Linked DNA regions of Homo sapiens: region 2 is reported to be linked to region 1. The links are microRNA targets in miRTarBase. Many come from high-throughput screens and were not tested one by one. Region 1 holds a microRNA gene; the other region holds the end of a gene's coding sequence.

Region 1 (3,402 bases):
TTTTACTGCAACCCACAGGAAGAAGTGTATTTATAGTGAGAGCTTGCACATGCATACATACACCATATATACATACATACACCACATATACATACATACACCACATATACATACACCACATATACACATACACCACATATACATACATACACATGTACATACATACACCACATATACATACATACACCACATATACATACATACACCACATATACATACATACACCACATATAAAAAACCAAAAGTTTCATAAGACAAAATGTGTGATGGGCTCAGAATTGAATATTTCCTATTATGTTACAGTTCTTTTTTTTTTTTTTTTTTTTTTGAGACAGAGTCTTGTTCTGTCGCCCAGGCTGGAGTGCAATGGCGCAGTCTGGATTCACTGCAACCTCCGCCTCCTGGGTTCAAGCGATTCTCCTGCCTCAGCCTCCCGAAAAGTTGGGATTACAGGCGCCGCCACCACTCCCAGTTAATTTTTGTATTTTTAGTGGAGACGGGGTTTCACCATGTTGGTCAGGCTGGTCTGCAACTCCTGACCTCATGCTCCACCTGCCTCAGCCTCCCAAAGTGCTGGGATTACAGGCGTGAGCCACTGCGCCGGGCCTATGGTTCATTTTTTAAAACGCTCATTGTGACCTAATAAATTAACTTCCCAGATGACTCATGGGTTTGGACCCACAACATAAAACACCACTGCCCCAAACAATCTGAACCGAGGCGCACAGAATAGTAAGTGGTAGCTACTGACATTGAGTCTCACAACTTCCTCCACTGGACATTGAAATTATAATTATAAACAGAAATATAAAATTGAGACAATTTCTTGAAAATGTTTCAGAAATGCATATGCCCCTTGGTTTCAGGCTTCTACCTGTTTTAGCTCTTCTTTTTCTAACTGGTTGAAAATGCAGGTATTGGCAGAAAACCTGAGGATAATTACAGACCCTAGATGACAAAGACAGAGATGGCAAATCATGCTGATGAAAAGCCTGAAGATCTGTAAATCAGAAAAACAAAATTCCTGGTTATTCAGAATATACAGACATCATTCCAATCAAAACTTGGCCTTTGGCACCGGAGCAGTGAGGCAAACTGGCTGGTCATGAGAACAGGCATTACTTCTGGCCACTCCAGAGGCAGGTGGAAGCAGAGCGTCCAAGCCTTCAAGCCCCTTGGTCTTGGTACAGACCTACTGCCTTTCTCTCCAGAGGACAGTCAAAAGATTCTGGGTTAGGGATGCCTCTGGAGACTCTAAGGACACTAAGCAGCTTAAAAGGGCTTCTATGAGCCCATGAGTAAAGTCCTCATGCAGGCCTCACCCAGCAAGCAGTTGAGCTCAGTGTATTAGAAATGAGAGCAGCCTGCGCAACATAGTAAGACCTTGGCTCTACAAAAAATAAAAAATTAGCCAGGCGTGGTGGTGTATGCCTGTAGCTGTAGCTAGTTGGGAGGCTGAGGTGGGAGGATGGTTTGAGCCTGGGAGGTTAAGGCTGCAGTGAGCCAAGATTGCACTACTGCACTCCAGCCTGAGCAACAGGAAAAAAAAGGAAAGAAAATAAAAGAGCAACGGAGGAAGGGAGGGAGGGAGGGAAGCAGGCAGGCAGGAAGGAGAGGCTGGGCATGGTGGCTCATGCCTGTAACCCCAGCACTTGGGAAGAATGAGGCAGAAGGATCACCTGAACCCAGGAGTTTGAGACCAGCCTGGACAACATGGGGAGACCTCATCTCTACAAAAATAAATTAAAAAATGAGCCAGGCCAGGTGGCACACACCTGAAGTCTTAGCTACTCGGGAAGCTGAGGTGGGAGGATTGCTTGAGCCTGGGAGCTGTGACCTGCAGTGAGCTGTGATCGTGCCACTGCACTCCAGCCTGGGCAACAGGGCAAGATCCTGTCTCAATAATAATAATAATAATAACAATAATCATAAAAAATAGAAATGAGCCAATACTCTGATTTTCACCCCAAGATGGATTCAAGCAACATTCCCAAGACCACCGCCAGCCCTCCTACAACCAGCTTTGGCTGATGGTGACTGAATATGCTCGGTGCCCAGGGTCACCCTCACTAGAGGCACGCCTCAGCCAGAGCACAGCACTGAAGAGTCAGCATGCACAGGGCTGAGGCCACCGCCCCCTGCAATGAGAATGGGCTCCCCAGCCAAATCTACCCACAGCTGGGGTCATAAGATGAGAATCCTTCCCAGCAATCCCTCAGATTCCTCTTTCCTTGTGTCTGAGAGCCTGGTACCCTCACAAGTGTTCTTCCCCAGGGTGTCTGTCCTCCTTGAGACATGTCCTATGGGTTTTCATCCCCATATGTGTTTTCTGCATTGTCATATTTTAAATCCCATTCAAGAGACTGCAGAACATTATTTCCAAATTTAATTTCATATGGTTTGAATGACATTTCCAAAAGGAAAATGCACCAATCTCAGAAATGTTTTACTCCACTGATTCATTCTTAACTTTCCATTTCTGTACCTTCTTTCCTTCTTGTGTTGGACTATTTTTTTTTTAAAGATGGAGTCTCGCTCTGTCACCCAGGCTGGAGTGCAGTGGTGCGATCTCAGCTCACTGCAAGCTCCACCTCCCGGGTTCACGCCATTCTCCTGCCTCAGCCTCCCAAGTAGCTGGGACTACAGGTGCACGCTGCCATGCCTGGCTAATTTTTTTTTTTTTTGTATTTTTAGTAGAGATGGGGTTTCACCGTGCTAGCCAGGATGGTCTTGATCTCCTGACCTCATGATCCGCCCACCTTGGCTTCCCAAAAGTGCTGAGATTACAGGTGCCTGCCACCGTGCCCGGCTAATTTTCTGTACTTCTAGTAGAGACGGGGTTTCACTGTGTTAGCCAGGATGGTCTTGATCTCCTGACCTCGTGATCCACCCACCTCGGCCTCCCAAAGTGCTGGGATTACAGGCGTGAGCCACTGCACCTGGCCGTGTTGTACTATTTTTAAGAAATAAAGTGATTTTTTTGGTATAATAAATAATGGGAAGATGCACAATGTCAATACCAAACTTAAATAGCTTTGATTCATTTGGGTTCCCACCTTCATCCACTTATAATTCATTTTAACCTATAGGTTATAAATGATTAATTACTCATATTTTAAAATCATCAAAAAACTTATATCATTGAGGTTGTATCAACTACAAACAATGTATGACTGTAGGCTTGCACTGGTGATCTGAGAAAAGGCTCCCAGCAGGACTGAAGGCAAGAATATTCAGAGAACGCTCAATAGAAAACTGTTACATACTTTTCAAATTTTCATTTGGTGATATGATTCATAAAACCAACTAATGAGAATTCTATATTAGAAAAACAATATATGTAAACCAAAGTAAAACTAGCTACTAATTTTTTTGTTAAGTCCTCCCATAAAGGGAATGTTT
Region 2 (3,402 bases), not on the chromosome of region 1:
AAATAACCCTGTAATTTTACCACCCAGAGGTAACCACTGTTAAAACATTTTGGGAAATTTCACTGTGATATTTTACTTATTCTGTTTTTTTGAGACAGAGTCTCGCTCTGTCGCCCAGCCTGGAGTGCAGTGGCGCCATCTCGGCTCACTGCAACCTCCGCCTCTTGGGTTCAAACAATTCTTGTGCTTCAGCCTCCTGAGTAGCTGGGATTACAGGCGTGCATCACCATGCCTGGCTAATTTTTGTATTTAATATTTTATTTAAAAATTTTTGAAGGTGTTCTGTTGGTGCCACAATAATGTCTAATTCATAGCACAGGAGTGGCCTGCTGTTGGCATCATCACCCCCAGGATCCCCAGTTCCCATGGAAAGAAGAATCTCTGCGGGCAGGCTAGCAAGCTGGGCAGGGAGGGTGTGGGCTGGGTGGGGGGTCTGTGTGGGGCATTTGGGAGGGTGCTTCTAGTAGTTGGGGCCATGAACCAAAGGGCGCAAGGAAATGTCTCACCAAGTTCTTCCTCCTTTTCAGCCCCTGAAGCCCAGAGGGAGACTGTGTTTGTGTGTGCCTCGTGTAACCAGACCTTGAGCAAGTGAGAAGAGAGGCCAGGGTCCAACCAGGCACCCGTCCTTGGGACCAGCAGTAGACCCCCCACTCTCCCCACCCCTGGCCCACTGTGGTGTGTGCTGGGCAAATGTGGCCTGAATGCTAGGTAGGCTTCCCCTTCCTTCCTCACTCTCTCCAGCTGGATTCTGGAGCTGTTCTCCATCCATGAGAGTGGCTGGCAATGGCTGCTCTCAATCCCTTGAGGGAGAAGAGCCCCTGGAGGGCCTGGCATGTTTGTCCTGCTCTGCCTGGGACTGAGCGAGTGGACTTAGGGCTGGGCAGGCAGTAGCCACCAGAGGGCAGCAGCGAACTAGGCCAGGCCTGACTGGGGTCTGAAGATCAGGGTCAGTGTGGCTGTGCCTGGGAATTCCAGACCTGAGGTTGGGAAAAGAGGTTTTTCTCCTGCAGGGTACTGGGCCAGGCCCTCAGCCTCAGAGAGCCTGCAGAAGGGCTTGGGAGTGCCACACCCCATCTCTGCTGATTGAATGTCCCTCCAGGCACCAGGATCTCATCATTTCCCCATCAGAGGGTGTGGCCAGGCCTAACAAGACCATGGGTGCTTCTAGAAACAGGGTTGAAGTTCCCAGATTCCCTGAGAGGAGAATGTGTATAGGAGGGTTTGGCTGAGTCCTTCAGCGTTAAGTGGAGGAAAGCTTGGGGAAGCCCCAATAGCTGGACAGACCTCGGCCTCCCCTCGAAGACACCTCAATTCACAGACTCTCAGCCCACACAATGCCCCAGTGTCCCCAGCTCCGCTGGAGCAGCTGCAGGGCACTTGGATCACAACTTCTGCACCCTCTGTCCAGAGTCTAGGGCAGTCCTCCACTGGCCCAGCACTCCAGTTTCCTTTCCCTGCCTCTTGTCCAATGGAGTGGGAGGCCAGGTGAGTGGAGCAGAGGTCCTGAAGCCCTTGACCCCTGGGGGCCTGGGTAGTGTAGGATCTCGCTGGGCTGGGTCCTGGATTCCAGGGCTATTCCCTGGAGGACAGTCTCAGTTATGGGATAAGGCCCCCTGGGGGTCTCCATTTCTTTCCAACAGTTTCATGTTCACTACTGGACTCTTACGGGCTCAGTATCTCTCCCTTAGCCATGAGCTGGCTCAGGCATCCCTTCCCTTCCCTGGAGCTGCCCTGCCTTTCTCAAGTATTTATTTATTTATTGCATGGTTCCTGGGAACATGTGGCACAAGTAATGGGATGAGGAGGAATTGGGGGTGGGGGTCTTCTACCTAGGACTCTTCCCTGGAGTCATGGGCTGCCTGGGACCCAGGACCCATGAGGGGGCTGAGAGGTTTCTACACTCGAGGAGCAGGGGTCCAGAGAGGCAGGCTGGGGAGGCAAGGGACCCATCCTAGGCCCGCTTTCTTGCCGAGCCAAGCAGCTTAGCTGGGGCTGTGCAGCCAGGGGCTTACCCAGGCCAGTGGAGGTGCCACAGCCCTGGGGAGCCAGACAGGCTTTGGTATCGTATCGCCTCTGTGTCCTTTTAAGAGAGGAGAGTTCAGTACCCCGTGCTTTCTTTACACTGGAGAGGAACTAAAAGGATCTCTGTGTCTATGGAGAATTGTCAATAAAAAGGCCTCAAGCTTCTTGTTTTTGTCATGTCTTTGTGTTGGCATTTTCCCTGAGGCTGGAAGACCAGATCTCTCTGGCACTGCTGGAGTTTTGCAGGCCTGGGCAATTCCTGCAGGACCAGGCTGAGGGGCGGGCCTTTGGGGCACCATGGTGGCAGGGGCGTGGGGGCTGCAGCCTGGTCTGGGTATGAGCTGGGGGCCAAGAGGAGGAAAGCTGTGCCTTGCACGCAGGAGAGGCTCAGCAAATGCTTGTCGGATTGACTTGAGGCCCAGTCTTGTGACCCAATTGTGAGGGCCCAGCACTGGGGGTTGGGGTTGGGACTAGAACTTGGTAAACCCCAAACAATGCAGGCTTTACAACGGAAAGATTTTAACTAATCCCTCTGAGAAAGCCAGAAAGGGTCAGCCTTCAGGGAGGCTGAGAGCAGCAGGAAAGAGGATTGGACATGAGATGGGAAGTGCAAGCCATGCCCTGAGCTGGGGCAGGTGGGTGGTGGGTGGCTGGGTGCTGGGCACTGGTGAGGGCTTTGCGTGCAGTATCTCATTTATTGCTCACAGCAACTCTGAGGTAGGCACTGTTCCCCTGAAGTAGGAGCAGAGTCCCTGCAGCAGTAGAGGGTGGTGCCTGGCGCCTGCTGTGGCCCACCTCCATGCTTGGACCCCTTTACCATCTGTTGGAGCGGTGCTGGGGCCCATTGGCATAGGGATGCTGCCCCCAGGCTCACTGTGCTTTCCTCCTCTGGAAAGTGCACCTGATGGTGATGCATAGCTTGTGCGGGTGCTGTGAGAGAAATGAGAGAGTCGACGGGAGGCATGGGGCCCGGTGCCTGGCATGCTGGACACGCTGGCTCCTGTCATCCTGGCCACCTTCAGAGGACAAACAGCTCTGTCCTGGGTGGCTTAGAACAGTGATTTATTTTTTTTAAACCAGAGTGTAATTTTAGATGATTCTTCAGAGAAGAGTATCAGAGAGGCACAAGTGTAGTTTGGAAAAGCAGTCAATGCATTTTATTTTTGGAAAATGAAAATGCCAAATGTTGGTGAAATCTCAACCATAACAGCAGTAACTTGAAGTCTGTGCCTGCAGGCATGGATTACAGAGATGGGAGAAGCATGAGTTTCCATCCTTGGGTAACAGCCTCCGAGAAGGGGATGCTAGAGGGCCTTGTCCCCTTGAGGTGCCCCTGAGAGTAGGCAGGGGACATAACTTTAAATTGCAGGTACCGCTGGG

Evidence for each region. Region 1 holds the annotated microRNA hsa-miR-4306 (UGGAGAGAAAGGCAGUA, at 1,194-1,210, opposite strand). A microRNA usually pairs through its seed, bases 2 to 8, with sites in the 3' UTR of a target mRNA and lowers its output. Matches are read on the target gene's strand: a 7mer-m8 pairs with bases 2 to 8, a 7mer-A1 pairs with bases 2 to 7 and ends in A, and an 8mer does both.
Region 2: miRTarBase lists ZFYVE27 as a target of hsa-miR-4306. Seed matches in the 3' UTR shown: 8mer at 733-740 and 7mer-m8 at 1,677-1,683.

Annotation. Positions count from the first base shown.
Region 1 is chr13:99,640,931-99,644,332 of GRCh38, reverse strand. MIR4306 (microRNA 4306) reads right to left here and starts at 1,274; the gene lies at 1,184-1,274. The region is part of intron 1 of CLYBL (citramalyl-CoA lyase); the gene reads right to left.
Region 2 is chr10:97,758,709-97,762,110 of GRCh38, forward strand. It overlaps ZFYVE27 (zinc finger FYVE-type containing 27), which reads left to right. Exons shown (of 13, transcript NM_001385875.1): 13 at 528-2,187. The coding sequence ends at 592. Among named protein-coding and RNA genes, the nearest start is that of SFRP5, 12 kb to the right of the region's middle. RefSeq lists a silencer at 810-859 and an enhancer at 1,332-1,831.